5 linked regions of the Homo sapiens genome follow. The protein of the gene in region 1 interacts with the protein of each later gene in a pairwise test. Each region holds a gene or a part of one and is shown in the gene's direction. Other genes may lie near its edges. The genes, in order: DCTN3, NUP54, GSK3B, PBX2 and TRIM55.

Region 1 (2,935 bases):
GCAATTGTGTTTTCAGCTCTGAAGCTTGATGTCAGAAGAGACTTCAAGAGAAGAGAGTGGAGAGATAGGGAAGTGGGGATAGGGAGCCTGGTGGAGCCCTGCTCATGTGGCACTGTTGGGTATCAGCTCCTCATTGAAGGCTCTCCTCAAGGCTGACCACTTGTCAAACATCCTTCATAAGGCAGAGCTCTACTGCCCAACCCTATTCCATTTTCCATCTTGCTACTTTTCTAGTTGAAGATCTGATCAAGTACCTGGATCCTGAGTACATCGACCGCATTGCCATACCTGATGCCTCTAAGCTGCAATTCATCCTAGCAGGTAATGCTGGACTACATGTGTACATGCATCTGAGGATGTGGGTCGTCGGGGAGGTTAAGCACAGAGATGGCCTCTCCATCCAGTCTTCTGGTGGATACAAGCCCTGGATGCTGCTCTCTGGAATTGTGGCCTGGTTCTGGGTTGAGGATCCTATGGATCCTCTAGTAGACATTGAGTACAGTATACCTCTGCACCAGCTGCAGGCCATGGTGCCAGCCACAGTGGGAGCTAGTCCAGTGTTCTATCAATAGTTTGCCTCTTGGATTTTCCTTCAGAACCTTCCTCACTTCTGCTCACTAGACAGAGGAGCTTCTAGGAAAGGGTAGGGGCAGAGAGCATTGCCATTAAAGAACAGAGAGAGTATTGGCATGAGTTTCAACATCTTTCTTTCATGTGAGAAAGCTCTGCAGTGTCAGAGTTCTAGGCAGGAACTATTGCCTTGGCAATGTCTGCTAATCAGTCAGCCATTCTATAAGCTAGGGTTTTTTGAGCTTCGTTATTCATCCAAAAGATGTATAATGATCATCTACTCTGATCCAGGTTCTTTCCTAAGTGAGGAAGCATACAGTGGTGAACCAGAAAGTCCCTGCCCTCATGGGCACAGCCAGAGCTAGGGGAGACAGGGTCCCTGCTTCAGGGACCTGAGCTTATAACCCAGATGGGAGATCAGTCTCCCAGGAGACTGATCAGTGCAATGCAGCACTGAGGACTGGGTAAGGATGGGCCACTCCTGCTAAAAGGGCTGTCAGAGTTCCCAAAGGGCTCTTGGTCAATTGCCATCGCTCAAGCACCAAGTTTAGATATTCTCCTGCACTGACTCTTGAGTCCAGCCTCTCCATCCCTCCCTGTGGCACTGCCTCAGGAATTGTGCATCCACTTGCATATGAATGGTTGCACAGTCTCCTAAATCATACTCTTGACCCTAATCTTTCCCTTCCTGCATGTGGTTCAGTCTCACCCTCACAAAAACATGTTCCCAACATGTCACTTTGCCTACTTTGGAACCTCAGTGTATCCTGCCTTGCTAGGATAAAGTCCTAATTCCATAGTCTGCCATTCAAAGCCTTTCAGTCGGCCGGGTCTACCCTCCCATCCAACTCTGTTTCCTGTGCTCTCCCTACTCCAGTTCAGCTAATTGAATTCTTTCTCCTCTACTAATTGACAGGCATTCCTGCCTCTAAGCATTTGCACGTAACAGTCCTCTCTCTTGAATACCCTTCCCACTCTATGGATTTCAGTGCATTGAAATCCCGTGTGCATACAGGGCCTAGCCCAGATCCTGCTCTCCTCACTGGACTCTTCCATTACTGTCCCAGCTCTCCTCCAGCATATAATTGTCTATGCCTCTGAGAGCCACTGAGCAGAACCTGCCTGGCGTAGTCTGCCACATATCTCTTTTAGACCTTCCTGGGGACCCTTGGGTGTGGGGATCCAAGTCTGAAGTATTTTGTATTTTGTGGCCTAGGAGGTGCTCCCTGAGTTTGTTGATAGGAGGCTAGAAGAAGAGGTCTTGAAGTTAAACCTTGGAGAAAGGTGGGATTTGGAGAAATTGAGAGGCTCATTAGGCTCAGATGGGTCAGACCTGAGGCATCCAGGAGAGTTGGGGGCAGGATGGAAATGTGCACCTAGAGAAGGGGGCAGTGGACAGAGTCACTGTCCAAAGCTCTAGGACCTAGCCATCTCCCTTGCCAGGTCCTCAGGCCCTTACATGGGCTGATTAGCAATGCCCAGGTTTGCTTCACTGCAACTATCTTGTCCATTTTTGCTTTAGAGGAGCAGTTTATCCTTTCCCAGGTTGCACTCCTGGAGCAGGTGAATGCCTTGGTGCCCATGCTGGACAGTGCTCACATCAAAGGTATCTCTCTGGGGTTATAGCTTCACTACTCTGGTTGGGGAGGTAGGTGGATGGATGGGCAAGACTTTCCTGTGTTTCAGGTTGTGTGGATTCGGGTTGGGTCTGTTCCTTATCTTTTTTTTTTTTTTTTGGACAGAGTCGTACTCTGTCACCCAGGCTGGAGTGCAGTGGCATGATCTTGACTCACTGCAACCGCTGCCTCCTGGTTCAAACAAACTTCCCACCTTGCCTCCCAAGTAGCTAGGATTACAGGTGTGTGCCACCACACCTGGCTATTTTTAGTAGAGACGGGGTTTCACCATGTTGTCCAGGCTGGTCTCAAACTCCTGGCCCCATGTGATCCACCTGCCTCGGCCTCTCAGAGTGCTGGGATTACAGGCGTGAGCTACTGTGCCTGGCCTGTTCCTTATCTTTATCCTCACCCTGAGGTACTTGCCACATCCACCAATTAAAATTACCAGGATAGAGAGCCCAGTTTTAGGACCTCAGGCAATTTGGGCCTGAGAACACTAGCCTAAGCTCTAGCAGTCCCCAGCTCTGGGGATTCCTTCTGCCTTCTACCTACCCCCAAGCATCTCTTCTTCAAGGTGCTGCAGAACCCAGATTTTACTATCAGAGTCTCTGCCAGGTCCATGAATGTATGTGAATTCTTTCTGCTGCACTGCTGAGAGCAGTCCCTGGGCCTGGACTTTGACAAGCAGATAGTGGCTTTAATTGAATCCAGATATCCATCTTGTCTGTCTGTGGAGGTATTTTTCC
Region 2 (4,210 bases), on another chromosome or scaffold:
ATAAACTGTACAGTAATTAACAATATCCTTGTAAACATGTCTTAGAACACATTGGTATATATTTCTTTAGAATAGATCTCTGGTAATGAAATTTTTGAGTCAATATTATGTATGTTAGATATTGCCAAATTGCCCTCCAGGGAAAGTTCTACCGTTTATATTCATAACAGGAATGTTATTTTTTCTGGCCACTGATGGCAAAATAATTAATTTAAAAATTAATACTTATTTTTAATATGTTTATTAGCTACATTTATATTTTTTGTGAGTTACCTATTTGTGTCCTTTGCCCATTTTCTAGATTTTTTTGTCTTCCTTTTTGATGTATAGGAACTCTTTCTATATTCTGGAGGTTAATCTATTATCCTATAGGTTATAGATAGTTCCTTTCAATCTGTGCTTTTTTTGAACTTTATTTATTCTGCAAAAATTTGTATTTTTACCATGATTATATTTGACAGTCACTTTTCATTATAGCTTCTAGGTATAGGGTCTTGCTTTAGGAAAGCCTTTGTCATACACATATTATAAAAATAGAAAATTGTTTTAGAAAAAATATTTTTTATTTGTGGTAGGTGTTGATCCTATTATCTGGGAACAGGCCAAGGTAGATAACCCTGATTCTGAAAAGTAAGTATGTCTTCATCTTGTTTCATTTAAGAACTAATATTTGCTACTAGGAAAGCAAACATGGGAGCTATTAATTATAATTCTTACATATGAGACAAGTTTATTTTCATTTTCCTGGCCTTTAAAAAATATTGATTATTGTCCAGCTAAAGCTTCAGCCAAAACAAAAAGAAAAAAATAAGAAAAAAAAAGATTATGGTAAGGCAGCATAGCATAGTGAGAACTAACTAGGAGCGGAAAATTCTATTTGCGTTTTCATTTAATAATGTAATGTTTTGACTGAACTGTATTTCCTCATTTGTAAAATAGGGAGGTTGAATAAAATCTCTTTGGTATAACATGGTTATCTCATAGTCATAGATCTGCCTTAGAGCCCTAGAAAGTTGATGTAAAATTACATGAGTGTTACTAAAACCTTCACTTCTTGTATTTTGTAGTAATAGGCTTAAGGTCTGAAAATTGTTCACTGCGTTTCTTCAGGTTAATTCCTGTACCAATGGTGGGTTTTAAGGAACTTCTCCGAAGACTGAAGGTTCAAGATCAGATGACTAAGCAGCATCAAACCAGATTAGATGTAAGCATTTAGCTTTTTATTCCCTGGCCCTGGAAGTAGGGAAAGGGATTATAGACATTTAATTCTTTTTAGTATATGTGCTACTGTTTTATCTTAATCAGGAAACAATGTAGCATACACTGCAATTTAATAGTTTTATACAACTACCTTCTTTATGATAGAAGTCCCCAAATCACATGAATCTGATTTGATATAATAATGAATTTAGAATTCTTGTCTTAGTGGATTAATTAGACTGTCATTTCCAGTTTCAGCCAGGGATTGCATATTATTATTTATGGGGCCTTATGAAAATGAAGGTTATAGTAATGATTATTTTATGTTGACATATAATTGTCTTGGTATATTATTGTATGTTGATAAAATTAATGCTTAAATATACTTAATATTTTATTTCATAAAGTAGACTTTTTTAGGAGACCAGGGTGGGTGGATCACTTGAGATCAGGAGTTCAAGACAAGCCTGGCCGACTTGGCAAAACCTGGTCTGTACTAAAAAATTCAAAAATTAGCTGGGTGTCGTGGTGCACGCCTGTAATGCCAGCAACTTGGGAGGCTGAGGCATGAGAATTGTTTGAACCCGGGAGGCAGAGGTTGCAGTGAACAGAAATCGTGCCACTGCACTCCAGCCTGGGCGACAGAGTGAGACTCCTCAAAAAAAAAAAAAAAAAAAAAAAAAAAAAAAAAAACTTTCATAATTAAATACTTAAAGATTCTTAAAGGTCAGAGAAATTTCTATGATTTCAATTCTTTTAACTTTGCTAAGGTTTTTTTTTTTTTTTTTTTTTTTTTGAGACGTCTCTCGCTCTGTCGCCCAGGCTGGAGCACAGTGGCGCGATCTAGGCTCGCTGCAAGCTCCACCTCCTGAGTTCACGCCATTCTCCTTCCTCAGCCTCCGGAGTAGCTGGGACTACAGGCGCCTGCCACCACGCCCGGCTAATTTTTTGTATTTTTAGTAGAGACGGGGTTTCACCGTGTTAACCAGGATGGTCTCGATCTCCTGACCTCGTGATCCACCCATCTCGGCCTCCCGAAAGTGCTAGGGTTACAGGCGTGAGCCACTGCGCCCGGCCAACTTTGCTGAGGTTTTATAACCCAGGAGCCTATGAAAATAATGTGTATTCTGCAGTCCTTGGGTGAAGTTTTCTATTAATGTCAGTGAGATCCAGTTGGTTGATAGTATTGCTCAGTTCTGTATTCTTGTTGTTTTTTCTGTCTGCTAGTTTGAGAAGAGATTTGAAATCTACAGCAACACTTACGGATTTGTGTTTTTCTCCTTTCATTTCTCAGTTTTTGCTTCATGTATTAATAGTTTGAAGGGCTGTTGTTATATAGGATTGTTGTGTTTTCTTGGCAAATTTACCTTTTATTATTATATCATATCCCTCTTAATCCTCGGTAAGTTTTAAATCTTCTCTAATGGCCTTTTCTTTTATTGTTTTTAATCGATACATAACTACATATTTATGGGGCATAGTGTGATAATTCAATACATGGATATAGTGTGTAATGATCAAATAAAGTAATTAGCATATCCATTACCCCATACATTTATCATTTGTTGGTATCATGGGAAATTCACTCCTATAGCTATTTGAAACACAATAAATGGTTGTGAATTATAGTTACCTATAGTGCTATAGAACACTGGAACTTAATCCTCCTATCCAGCTGTACTTTTGTATCTGTTAAGCAACCTTTGGCAGTTCCCTACTCCTACTCTTTCTCCACCTCTAGTAGCCACTATTCTACTCTTTTCTTCTACTAAATCAACTTTTTTTAGCTTCCACATATGAGTGAGAACATGCAGAATTTATCTTTCTGCACGTGGCTTATTTCACTTAACAAAATGTCTTCCAAGTTCATCTATGTTGCTGCAAATGGTAGCACTTCATTCTTTTTCATGATTAAATAGTATTCTATTGTGTGTGTATATATGTGTACACATACACACCATGTTTTCTTTATCCATTCATCTGTTCATGGACACTTACTCAAGACACTCAGAAGTCTTTGTCTGGTGTTAACATAGCCACGCTACCTTTCTTTTGATAAAAAGTGTTTGTATGGCATACCTTTGTCCATCTTTTTGCTTTTAACCTACCTATATTGTTATATTTGAAGCGAGATTCTTGTAGACAGCAAAAAGTTTGGATTTAGTCCTACCATTTATTTGTTTTGTGTTTGTAGCCTCTGTTTTTCATTCCTGTTTCTACTTTTCTGCTTTCTTTTGAGTTATTTGGACTTTTTTTTTTTTTTCAGCATTTCCTTTTAATCTATTATTTCAAGTCTTAGAGCAGTACTTCTTAGTAGTGGCTTGTGGTGGTGGTGGTGATTTTGTCTCCCAGAGCACATTTGGCAATGTCTGGAGACTCTTGGTTGGGGAGTACTACAGGCGTCTAATGTGTAGAGGCCCAGATGCTGCACACATTCTGCAGTGTACAGAACAGTACTCCCACAACAAGGAATTACCCAAGATTAATAGTGCTGAAGTTGAGAAACCTTTCTCTAGGTAATACGATGTATCTCCTCCCACTATAACTAGCAGACTTCCCTTGGAGCTCCCTTTCAGCATTTATGCTCATTTCCAGGTTTGAGGCTGGGTTGAAACCAGACTAGGGACGCCTGAGGGGAAAAATGGGTAAACTCACCACAAGTTTATTGGTACTTTAAATTCCTATCTTACCTGATCTTCCTGCCAGAGTTCCCAAATAGCTGCCCCGTGTATTCCATCCAAGTTTTATAGCTATATTAAATGGGAGAGATTGGGGTTGTATATGCTTAGTCCATCTTGTCCAGAACTGAAATCATTCATATCTTTGGCCAGTGTTTCCACTGGGCTTCCTATTTTTTCTTTATTGAACTTCAGTAATCATTTACTCTAGATTGTAGTCTCTGTTTATAACGTTGTAAATATCTTCTAGTTTCTCATCTCTTTGTTAATTCTGTCTTTGGTGTCTGTAGTTGAAGAGAAATCCTTAATTTTAATGTAATGATATCCATTAA
Region 3 (4,210 bases), on another chromosome or scaffold:
TATGTGAATAGAACAGCAAGGAAAAACTGAGTAGAGTTAAAGAAGTTTGTTTTCCCTGAGATTTTCTGCCTTTAAATTTATATAAAAAAGGAATATTCCATTTTACGTTATTGAGTTTTCTATTTTTTTAAATGAGCTAATACTCAGTACATAATGGACATTTTTAGTAAATTATTCCAATATACTTGTGTCTGTAATGCATTTGATGTGGTATAAGATTTAGAAACACAATTTAGTTCGGCTGGCACGGTGGCTCACGCCTGTAATCCCAGCACTTTGGGAGGCCGAGGCGGGTGGATCACGAGGTCAGGAGATCAAGACCATCCTGGCCAACGTGGGGAAACCCCGTCTCTACTAAAAATACAAAAATTAGCGGGGGCGTGGTGGTGTGCGTCTGTAGTCCCAGCTACTCAGGAGGCTGAGGCAGGAGAATCGTTTGAACCCATGAGGCGGAGATTGCAGTGAGCTGAGATCGTGCCACTGCACTCCAGCCTGGGCGACAGAGAGAGACTCTGTCTCAAAAAAAAAACAAAACAAAAGACAATTTAGTCGATTTGGGTTCTTAGTTTATAATCCCCCTTACCATTTTTGCTTATATTTTGGGAAGAGAGGTCAACTTCCAAACAATGTGCAGGTTCCAATTTTATAAGTGATTAAATCTTATATTTTTTGTATTGAATAGTTTTCTTAGCATGTTTGGTTTGATCACTTGAAGTAATGATGTATTTGTCTTGAAACTAGTTTTGTCAAACCAACTTTTTATTTCCAGAGTACCATGGTTAACAACAGCACAAAGCCAAGTCCTTAACGTGTTCCCTTAATAACATGGTCTAAGGTTAATTTCTTGATTCTTATTTCAAATCAATTCAGTAATAAAAAGTACACTTTTTTTTTTTTTGAGATGGAGTCTCGCACTGTTTCCTGGGCTGGAGTGCCATGGCGTGATCTGGGCTTACTGCAACCTCTGCCACCCAGGTTCAAGCGATTTTCCTGCCTCAGCCTCCCAAGTAGTTGGGATTACAGGTGCCTGCCACCACACCTGGCTAATTTTTTGTATTTTTAGTAGAGACGGAGTTTCACTGTGTTGGCCAGGCTGGTCTCAAAATCCTGACCTTGTGATCTTCCCACCTCGGCCTCCCAAAGTGCTGGGATTACAGGCGTGAACCACCACATGTGGCCGAACTAAATTGTGTTTCTAATTTAGTTTTCCTGAAGAATAACAGCTATGCATCAATGTGGAATTGTGTTATTTGGAATCTCACCTTATTGGAATTGGCTGGTAATTGACAGTAAACCAGAAGTGCTCCTGAGCAGCTAATATCTGCAGACAAATGGAGTGTAAACTTTGCTCATAGGTTAGTTTTCAGGCTTTTATTAACGGTTCCTTGTTATTATTTAACATATAGTTGTAATTCATTGAGTTGTCTGGGTTTTTTTGAAATCACAGATCAGGGGAATGGATAGGTACTGATTAAGCATTATGCTACTGAAAAGAATGGATGATTAGGGGAAACAAGCATATTGGGATTACTTAGTGTATGTAGGGTATGTAGGTTCATATAGTTCCAGGGTAAATCATTCTGATAATTGTTGAAAATGTTCACCCAGAGAAATTTTTTTTTTTTTTTGGAGACAGGGTCTCGCTGTGTTGCCTATGCCTAGCCTGGAGTGCAGTGGCACAGTCTTGGCTCACTGCAGCCTCTGCCTCCTGGGCTCGGGTGATCTTTTAACCTCAACCTCTGGAGTAACTGGGACTATAGGCATGCGCCAACATGCCTGGCTAGTTTTTGTAGTTTTTATAGAGAGGGGGTTTCGCCATCTTGCCCAGGCTGGTCTTGAACTCCTGGAATCAAGCAATCCTGCCTCAGCCTCCCACAGTGCTGGGATTACAGTCATGAGCCACTGCACCCATCTGAGAATATTAATTCTCTTTTAAAGAGGCAGGAGGCAGAAAAATCTCTTGTGGAAACCTGGGCTTCTGCATAAACTACATAAAATATCTGTAATTTGTTGATCACTGAAGTGATGAAGAGAACTGGGTCACCTCTGTCTGATTCACCATCTTCTAGTTGGATTTCAGCAGTATGGATAAAGGTACTAAAGTCTTTAGTGTGCTAGCCCAGGGTATTGTTTCCAACTCTTTCTTCCATTGTCCATCTACATTTATTAACTCAGCAGCAGAGTTTTATCTGATTTAAGATTTGTTGTCTTACTATTTCTGTTTTTTTTTTTTTCCTCCTTAGTATATATGGAATTGCTGCTTGGATTTTGGCTGGCTTGTACCTTTTGTTTGTGGACTGCTTAGAAGGCACTGCATGGAGTCATTTAAGCTTTCTTATGAATTATGAATAGCTATGTAGAGAGGAACTTTTCTAGATACATTTATGGCCTATGAGAATTGAAAAGCTGGGTATCTTAATTGTTAGGCTGAAGAAAAAGGGTGATAGTGGCAAAGTAGTTTTTCTTTTGGAGGTCTGAGAAATTCTTAGGGGCTTAATTGGCTAATATAACTAGAAAGGTTGGGTGATTTAGGTTTTTTTCCAAGGAAAGGTATCTTATTTAAATGCAACACTGTCTGCTTCCTGTTATTTTATAAAATTAGTTAATACTTTTTTTTTTTTCTCAAGACGGAATGTCACTGTGTCGCCCAGGCTGGGGTGCAGTGGCACAATCTTGGCTCACTGCAACCGCCACCTCGAGGCCTGGTTCAAGGAATTCCCCTGCCTCAGCCTCCTGAGTAGCTGGGATTACAGGCATATGCCACCATTCCCCGCTAATTTTTTTGTATTTGTAGTAGAGATGGGGTTTCACCATGTTGGCCAGACTAGTCCTGAACTCCTGACCTCAGGCAATCTGCTGGCCTCAGCCTCGCAAAGTACAGCAAAATCAGTTAATATTTTTAATTGATTAACACTTTCTTCATGACCTGTGTTGAAGTTATTGAGTTGAGTCAATTGAATTTCTAATGCTAGATTTTGAGTATGTGGTGTGAGCACCTGAAGAGTTGGAGGTACTGGAATTATGTCTGACATCAGACTGATAGTATTTGCAGGGACATTTGCCCTAGTGGAATTCAGGGTTTTCACATTCTATACATTACTTAAATTATGAAGGAAAGGGGGAAGCTTTGAGTTGGTAGACTTTTAATAATAAGATATAATTACATGTATATAGAAGAGCAACGTACTGTATATCATATTCTCATAATATATGGTAATAACGGCAGTAATTATTGAGTGCGGTGTGCCAGATAATTGCATGTTTTATTTACCTATTTTGCTTTAAATTTTAAAAAATGTAATTTACTCACATGGTTCAAAATTTTAAAGATATTCAGTGAAGTCTTCTCTCCTGCTCTGCAACAACCAGTTCTCTTTCCTGGAGACCACTGGCATTACAATTTCTTATGTGTCCTTTCATAGGTATTCTGAATCTTTACGGATTAATGATTTCTATAGTAGACTTGCATTTTGTGTATACATACATAAATTAACAATAGCTTTAGCAGAAGTGTTAGAATTAAAACAAATTTAAATCAGTAACTCTAGAAAATTGCTATTTTTTAACCTATTAAATTAGTAAATACTTATTTCTCTAAATATAAGTTAGTTGGAGAATAAGTGCAAAGATGACAGAGCTCCTCTCGTGGCAATTAGAGGTAAAATGTTAATAGTCTTAACCAATGAACAATTAATAGCACATTTAAAATAGATGTTTATTTCATAATAAAAAGACAGGATAATTTTTTAACTTTCTATTTTTCTAACATCTTAGATGAGAAAACCTGTTCTCTTGAGAGATCAGAGGCGCAGAGTGCGTCAGTGTCAATGAAGCCTGTGCCTTTTACTTCTTTAAGAGCGTACGGTTTCATTCTGCTCCTAAATCAAGCACCCCTTAGTTGTTGAATAAAAATTACTTTTATAAAGGAATATATGATTTAAAGAAATCAAATAGTGCAGAAGGGCTTATGATGGAAAGTAATCTTCTGTCCTCCAGTCCTACTTCTTAGAAGCAACATTGGCTATGACAGCTGTTTCCTCTAGTAGTTTTTGTCATATTTTTAATTATATGCTTTTTATCTATTTCTTAAAATTAATTTTTTTGTCTTATTGTGGTAGACATCATTTATTGTCATGCCCATCTCCCTTTTGCTTTCATACTGATATAATTATGCCACTATTTAAAAACTATTATTTATTTAAATTATTAT
Region 4 (3,680 bases), on another chromosome or scaffold:
CTCCAAGACCCTGAGCTGCCATGCTGCACAACATGGTACTCCATGACAATGGTGACTCTGGGGTCATGCCATGTGACAGCCCTGCCAGGACATCAACATCCTCCTCACTGCTCTTCTCCCTCCTCTGTAGACGAAAGCGCCGTAACTTCAGCAAACAGGCCACTGAGGTCCTAAATGAGTATTTCTACTCCCACCTGAGTAACCCATATCCTAGTGAGGAGGCCAAGGAGGAGCTTGCCAAGAAGTGTGGCATCACCGTGTCTCAGGTATTATGGAGGTTGCGGGAGGAGTTGTCAGGCAAAGTGCACGCATCTCAGCTAGGTGCAGTGGTGTGTTCCTGTAATCCCAGCTACTAGGGAGGCTGAAGTGGGAGGATCACTTGAATTGGAGACCAGCCTGGGCAACAGCATAGTGAGACCAGGAAGCAAAAAAAAAAAAAATGCTGTCACTCACATCTTATTCAGTGAAGGACTTCAGAGGCAAATGTTTCTACCTGACCCTCCTTTCTGCCCCACAGGTCTCCAACTGGTTTGGCAACAAGAGGATTCGCTATAAGAAAAACATCGGAAAGTTCCAAGAGGAGGCAAACATCTATGCTGTCAAGACCGCCGTGTCAGTCACCCAGGGGGGCCACAGCCGCACCAGCTCCCCGACACCCCCTTCCTCTGCAGGTGGATCCCACTGTCACCCCGGCTGACTGTTTTGCACACTTCCTGCTTTTGTTCCCACTTCCTATCTAGGCAGGATCATAGCAGAGAGGGGGCCTTTTGGGGTGAGAGGGACCGAGCTGAGATAGGCTGGAGATGTCAGGGGACAGAGGCCATTCCAGTGATCTTAGTTCTGCCTTTCTTCCCACGGGTGGCCAAGGAACAGCCTGCTCTTTCTGTGTGTTGGAATGTTATTTTGTGGATAATTGGAGTATAGTAGCATGTCCCCACAAGAGTTGAGAGTTGTGGTTCATCCTCTACCATCACGGGCTCTATTACACTCTTCCCTCTCTGCCCCCACAAGGCTCTGGCGGCTCTTTCAATCTCTCAGGATCTGGAGACATGTTTCTGGGGATGCCTGGGCTCAACGGAGATTCCTATTCTGCTTCCCAGGTCAGATGCCCATCTCCTCTCGAATAGGGCTTTCCCCAACTCCATTTCCTCTACTTTAGGATACAAGACCTCTTTCCTCTGAGGCTTCTCTTCACTGTCATACCTTCCTCTGCTGCCTGCAGGTGGAATCACTCCGACACTCGATGGGGCCAGGGGGCTATGGGGATAACCTCGGGGGAGGCCAGATGTACAGCCCACGGGAAATGAGGGTGAGTGGATCCTGAAGCTCCTCTCTGTCCAGTTCTCACAGGACAGAGGGGCATTTTCCCTAGTAATGTTGTGCCCACACAGGGTTCCCAGGGCTTTCTCTGTTTTCTGTACTCTGTCTCTCCTTTCAGGCAAATGGCAGCTGGCAAGAGGCTGTGACCCCCTCTTCAGTGACATCCCCAACGGAGGGACCAGGGAGTGTTCACTCTGATACCTCCAACTGATCTTGCCCCTCAGGGTCACAGGGGTGGGGGCTCTCACAAGGCGACTTGAAGAGGACGCAGGCTTCCAGAGGACAAACCCCAATACAGGAGAAGCACAAGACAGAGAAGGGCCAATGGGGTCATCCCCTCCCTAACGAGACTCTCTGTGCTGGGGGTGCTAATTACATGGCAGGAAGAATGGGGCCTCTAAGGGGAGTGTGGGGTCTGTCTCTCCCTTTTTTCCATCTTTTTCCTCTCTCGCTTTCTTTCTTACACAGAAACATACACATACCGAGAAACCTATTTCTCAGACCCCTTTTTCTCCTCTGTCTTTCTCTCTCCCTCTCCCACACCTCACACACACATACTCCCACTTGCAACTATTCTGTTTCTCTCCTGGGCTCCCCCACTTTCCCTTCCCCACCCCACTTGTATGCTCTGGAATCTGTGGAGACGCCAGCCCTGCCCAATCAGAGATGCCAAAAATGGGGACATGACTTCTGGACAGAGGACATGGGCCACGCCCCCATGCATCCCCACCCCCGCCCCTCCGGACGGCTTACTTACCTCATACGCAGCTCATCTTAAACCAATAGAATCGCTCGGTGGACGAGAGTGTCTGACTCAGATATCTACCTCGGAGGGAGTTTCTGCTACTTTAGGGAATTATTGACTGGGCTTTGGGGTTGAACTTTTTTTTTTTTAAAGAAAGAAAAAGAAACCCTGGGATCCATCTGTTTTTTTTGTTGTTGTTGTTGTTTTTGTTGTTGTTGGTGGTGGTGGTGGTGGTGGTTCTTAATTTTTAATTTAGTTTGGGGAAGTAGCTTGTTTTTTTTTTTATAAATATGTTGATTTCTTGTCTTTTTTTTTTTTTATTTCTTACTTTCCCATATTAGGGGTGATAGCCAAAGGGGTTCTGGTAAGAGAAAGGGGGACAAACAGAACTGGTAAAGAGGCCCCCCTGGCTCCAGGCCTGTCCATCAGGAAGTAAATTTTACAGGGCACCAAGCTTTGCCCCCTAAAATCCCTTAGGTGTTCTTTGTTCATGCAGGCAGGTTTCTGCCGCATTTGATGTGGAGGCAGTGAAGGGCTTGCCCTGCTGGCCTCTCATCCCCCTTCTTCCCACAACCCTTGGGCAGGGCTGGACTCAGTAATTTTGAGGAAATTGAAGATGCCATCTTCCCCTGTGAGTGACATGTCTTTAATTTTTTAAAAAACTACTATTTGAAAATTGGAGGGGGAAGAATGGGAAGGGAGTTATTGCCAAATATGTTAAATATGGGTTGGGGTGCTTGTATATGTATCTTCCTCAATTTCCCCATAAATGAGGTATCTTTTTGTCACACCAAAATCAAGGGGTAGGGAGAGGGAGGAGGTTGCAAAAAGCCAGATGTGGGGGAAAAGTAACATCAACACTGTCCCATCCTCAGCCCTGAACTAGCTACCATCTGATCCCCTCAGACATTCTCAGGATTTTACAAGACTGTCAGAGTGGGGAACCCCTCCCATTAAAGATCCGGGCAGGACTGGGGACAGGTTGGAAGTGTGATGGGTGGGGGGGTGGGAGGCATGGGCCGGGGGCAGTTCTCTCCTCACTTGTAAACTTGTGTAGTTTCACAGAAAAAAAACAAAATGCAGTTTTAAATAAAGAAATTTCTTTTTTCCCTGGGTTTAGTTGAGAATTTTTTTCAAAAAACATGAGAAACCCCAGAAAAAAAATGATTTTCTTTCACGAAGTTCCAAACAGGTTTCTCTCCTGTTCCCCAGCCTTGCCTTCATGATGCAGGCCCAATTGCACCCTTGCAGACAACAGTCTGGCCTGAACCCTATTGATGCAACTTTGCGCAATCAAGATGGGGCTCCAGTGGGTCACCAGGCAGCCCTGATGGACTGATGGAATAAATAGGATCGGGGGCTCTGAGGGAATGAGACCCTAGAGGGTACACTCCCCATCCCCCAGGGAAGTGACTGTACCCAGAGGCTGGTAGTACCCAGGGGTGGGGTGATAATTATTTCTCTAGTACCTGAAGGACTCTTGTCCCAAAGGCATGAATTCCTAGCATTCCCTGTGACAAGACGACTGAAAGATGGGGGCTGGAGAGAGGGTGCAGGCCCCACCTAGGGCGGAGGCCACAGCAGGGAGAGGGGCAGACAGAGCCAGGACCCTGGA
Region 5 (4,210 bases), on another chromosome or scaffold:
TAATCAACAATTTGGTTTAGGTCATTCTCCCTGACTCCATACTGAGAATAGTAGAGAAATTGAGAGGAAATGAAACACATTAAAAAAAAAATCTATTCCGCCAGGATTGGTGGCTCACGCCTGTAATCCCAGCACTTTGGGAGGCCGAGGCGGGTGGATCATGAGGTCAGGAGTTTGAGATCAGCCTGACCAATATGGTGAAACTCCTTCTTTACTAAAAATACAAAAATTAGCCGGGCAAGGTGGCATGTGCCTGTAATCCCAGCTACTCAGGAGCCTGAGGCAGGAGAATCACTTGAACCTGGGAGGTGGAGCTTGCAGTGAGCCGAGATCGCGCCATTGCACTCCAGCGTGGGTGACAGAGCATGACTCCATCTCAAAAAAAAAAAAAAAAAAAAAAACCACAAAATCTATTCAACAGATATTTAGTGAACAGCTACTATCCAAGGTGCTCTGTGTCCTAGGCAGACCCAGATTCTACCCTCAAAAAAAATATACTTTGGATATTTAAGAAATTCACATAAAGGAAGAAAGCAATACATGACATAAAAGACTTCAATGTTTACCAAAATGAAAGAATATGTAATAAAGGGTATAGAATGGTCAGAGATGTCAGAAATAAATTTGCTGGATTCCCAAGAAGCTCTCACTGTGCGGGAGAGCTAGGTTAGATCACTATGGCTCACAACCTGCTCTCAGCTATAAAGGTCCTGGACCCAGAGATGGTCAAGTCCAAGGAGATTGGCATACATGCACACCAAGCTTACCAGGGATTGAAAAACCAAAAGGCCAATGACTAGATGAACTGGATAATTAATTATGATTTAAAGATGGGCCCAGACTAAAGGGATCTGGATGGTACTGGAGATACTTCAGCCACACAACACAAATGTGCAAGCCAGACTTCCAACACAGCCTTTCTCTCCAAGAGCATAGACCAGATACAGTATTACCCATTCTTAGGCAGTATTGGATAAATAGAGGATCTGGTAGATACAGATATATGCTATCAATGGTAACTATTATGAGATTTCAGAAAGTTAAAAGTTGCATTCAGCCATAAACATCAAGGGACACTTTATGGAAGAAGTGGTAGTCTGACAATGTCTTTGAAATTGCATAGAGTTTGCAGTGGTGACTTGGGGAAGAACACTGTAGACAGAAGGGAAAGCATGAACAAAGAAAGTGAGTGGTTTATTTTTGCTGGAATTCAGGGTATACAATGGAGGATAGTAGAATGTTATGAGAGAAATTGGAACCAGATCATGGAGGGGTCTTGAAAGCTAGTTAGGAAGTTTAAGTGTTATTCTTTGTGTAATAGGGAGTCATCATAGAAAAAAACATGATTAAGGCCGGGCACGGTGGCTCACGCCTGTAATCCCAGCACTTTGGGAGGCTGAGGTGGGCGGATCACTGTAGGTCAGGAGTTCAAGACCGGCCTGGCCAATGTGGTGAAACCCCATCTCTACTAAAAATTCAAAAATTAGCTGGGTGTGGTGGCAGGTGCCTGTAATTCTAGCTACTTGGGATGCTGAGGCAGGAGAATTGCCTGAACCTGGGAGGCGGAGGTTGCAATGAGCCGAGATCACACCACTGTACTCTAGCGTGGGCAACAGAGCTAGACTCTGTCTCAAAGAAGAAAGAAAGGAAAGAACAAAAAAACATGATTAGAACTGTACTCTGAGAAAATTAACTTGGTTGCAGTGTGTAAGTTGACTGGGAGGAGGGAATCCTAGCTGCAGAGGCCTTTGGGAAGCTACAAATTCTATATAGGAGGACTGAAACTAGGACAATATTGGTATAGGTGGAGCAGAGACTTTAAGGTACAAACCAGGAAGTATCATAGTATTTTCCTTGCATGCACACACATGCACACACACTCCAAAGCAAAATATAACCTATAACCTATGTAACCCAAATATAATATAAAAGAAAATCATTCTTTATTTCTATGAAATTCTCCATTTATAAAGAACAGAAGATTGAAAAACCATTGATTCATGTAGCCAATTTAATTGAGTTTTAGATAGTCTAAATATCAAATTTGTTAAAAATGGAATTTCCAAAGCACCAACATAGTGGGTATCCATACCTAAATAGACATCTTCAGGGAAAAGAAAAAAATATCCTACATAAGTAAATGTTCTTCTTTCCCAGGATAACTAGGTGATTTCTCCAAATCGACTTTGTTTCAAATACTTTCTAACATTAGCTAACCCAACTAATAGGAATGTTGCAGAAAACAGAAACAAGAGCTTTGTGAGAAGTTTGATTACCTGTATGGCATTTTGGAGGAGAGGAAGAATGAAATGACCCAAGTCATTACCCGAACCCAAGAGGAGAAACTGGAACATGTCCGTGCTCTGATCAAAAAGTATTCTGATCATTTGGAGAACGTCTCAAAGTTGGTTGAGTCAGGAATTCAGTTTATGGATGAGCCAGAAATGGCAGTGTTTCTGCAGGTAAGTCTCTTTTTGGCACCAAAGTAACAACCCAAAAGGTGGGTGTTGGAAAATTAGTTATCACATTTTTATTATTTTATGTACATTTCAGTTTTTATTTATTTTACCAACTAAAATATAAACCCCATGTGCTTATATATTAATCTATTTAAACAACTTAAATAGCATGTCTATGATACTGCTTAAATCTAATAGGGTTCTGTTATAAGACAGCAGTTATTTATGACATTTAGAAACTAAGCTATGAGATTCTCAGAGTCAACAAAGGAAATAATTGTCTTACCACTGTCTTTTGTGGAAATAATTTAAGTAAGACTATCTTTTGTTTGCTTTCACAGAATGCCAAAACCCTGCTAAAAAAGTAAGAACTTTTTATTTTATGTAAAAATGCATATTTTCACCTTTACCCAAGGCTATCCAATTTTCAACAGTGACAGAAAGTGGCAACTTGTCTTTGTTGCAGAATCTCGGAAGCATCAAAGGCATTTCAGATGGAGAAAATAGAACATGGCTATGAGAACATGAACCACTTCACAGTCAACCTCAATAGAGAAGAAAAGATAATACGTGAAATTGACTTTTACAGAGGTTTGTTATTCTTTTGACCATTTGGCCGAAGTTGCAGGTGTGTGAAAGCTGCCGAAGAGTTGGGTGGGAGGAAAGCGGGGATTCAGAATCACCTCCAGAATCAATGTCGACAACTTTACAAGGATCATATCCAATGTGAAGCTCTATTTCATTACAGGATCACATCGTTTGTTGACAGTGTTTATTTAGCTTTGCACATATGGTGCCTTTTTTTTTTTTTGATGGACTCTCACTCTGTTGCCCAGCCTAGAGTGCAATGGCACGATCTTGGCTCACTGGAACCTCCACCTCCTGGGTTCAAGCGATTCTCCCGCCTCAGCCTCCTGAGTAGCTGGGATTACAGGCACCTGCCACCACACCCGGCTAATTTTTGAATTATTAGAGAGGTAGGGTTTCGCCATGTTGGCCAGGCTGGTCTCGAACTTCTGACCTCAGGTGATCCACCTGCCTTGGCCTCCCAAAGTGCTGGGATTACAGAAGTGAGCCACCATGCCCGGCCTGGTGCCTATTTTAATGTCAGGTTGGGTATTTGACTCTTGATAAGCAAATGCTTCATAATTGATAATGATGATATCTCAACTTCAATCCTATGCACAGTGTTAGCCAAAATAATGTAAAGTGTCAGCAGGAGCAAGGTTAAAGATGAGATAAAAACAATACATAGGAGGCATGTGGGTTAGATATTGCAGCACATCAACTTAATCAAAATTTAGAGGACAAGAATAGTAACAACTCATAGAATAAGTCACAACCTGAACATAAACCTGGGTCTGTGTGACTAGTTATACTCCCTGAGCTATAACCACATTCCTACCTTTTGGCCCAGAAGTCCCATTTCTGAAATTTTATCCTGATTAAATAATTGAAAAGTGAAAAACAATCTTGGAGCTGACCAAAACTTTGATCACTTTGACTCATGCTAGCCCACCTAGATGATCACACCCCTCAGCTAGACCACTAGACCACTAGTAATGCTATGAGGCTGCACCAACATCCACAGACAAAATTTTAAAGGCAAATCTTTAGGATGTATCTTTTTAAAAAAATCGCTTAATATTGCCTGTCCTTAATGTCGCCTGAGGGAATATTAAGATCAGTGGGTCAGGAAAAGAGTCACGGCATTCCAGCACTTTGGGAGGCCAAGGCGGGTGGATCACTTA

The links.
Region 2: the proteins of DCTN3 (region 1) and NUP54 interact in binary tests that used the Homo sapiens proteins (3 or more experiments, as listed by UniProt).
Region 3: the proteins of DCTN3 (region 1) and GSK3B interact in a two-hybrid assay, tested with the Homo sapiens proteins (one large-scale study listed by BioGRID and IntAct).
Region 4: the proteins of DCTN3 (region 1) and PBX2 interact in a two-hybrid assay, tested with the Homo sapiens proteins (one large-scale study listed by IntAct).
Region 5: the proteins of DCTN3 (region 1) and TRIM55 interact in a two-hybrid assay, tested with the Homo sapiens proteins (one large-scale study listed by BioGRID).

Annotation. Positions count from the first base shown.
Region 1 is NC_000009.12:34,615,271-34,618,205, reverse strand, and holds part of DCTN3 (dynactin subunit 3), read left to right. Parts: intron 1-234; coding exon 235-321; intron 322-2,092; coding exon 2,093-2,176; intron 2,177-2,935. UniProt on the Homo sapiens protein: Part of the dynactin complex that activates the molecular motor dynein for ultra-processive transport along microtubules. Together with dynein may be involved in spindle assembly and cytokinesis.
Region 2 is NC_000004.12:76,127,650-76,131,859, reverse strand, and holds part of NUP54 (nucleoporin p54), read left to right. Parts: intron 1-575; coding exon 576-630; intron 631-1,110; coding exon 1,111-1,204; intron 1,205-4,210. UniProt on the Homo sapiens protein: Component of the nuclear pore complex, a complex required for the trafficking across the nuclear membrane.
Region 3 is NC_000003.12:120,084,220-120,088,429, reverse strand, and holds part of GSK3B (glycogen synthase kinase-3 beta), read left to right. Parts: intron 1-3,781; exon of another isoform or gene 3,782-3,866; intron 3,867-4,210. UniProt on the Homo sapiens protein: Constitutively active protein kinase that acts as a negative regulator in the hormonal control of glucose homeostasis, Wnt signaling and regulation of transcription factors and microtubules, by phosphorylating and inactivating glycogen synthase (GYS1 or GYS2), EIF2B, CTNNB1/beta-catenin, APC, AXIN1, DPYSL2/CRMP2, JUN, NFATC1/NFATC, MAPT/TAU and MACF1.
Region 4 is NC_000006.12:32,184,233-32,187,912, reverse strand, and holds the end of PBX2 (pre-B-cell leukemia transcription factor 2), read left to right. Parts: intron 1-130; coding exon 131-266; intron 267-517; coding exon 518-671; intron 672-1,011; coding exon 1,012-1,100; intron 1,101-1,222; coding exon 1,223-1,309; intron 1,310-1,438; coding exon 1,439-1,531; 3' UTR 1,532-3,180; downstream 3,181-3,680. UniProt on the Homo sapiens protein: Transcriptional activator that binds the sequence 5'-ATCAATCAA-3'. Activates transcription of PF4 in complex with MEIS1.
Region 5 is NC_000008.11:66,147,417-66,151,626, forward strand, and holds part of TRIM55 (tripartite motif-containing protein 55), read left to right. Parts: intron 1-2,228; coding exon 2,229-2,462; intron 2,463-2,800; coding exon 2,801-2,823; intron 2,824-2,925; coding exon 2,926-3,050; intron 3,051-4,210. UniProt on the Homo sapiens protein: E3 ubiquitin ligase that plays an important role in regulating cardiac development and contractility, muscle growth, metabolism, and fiber-type differentiation.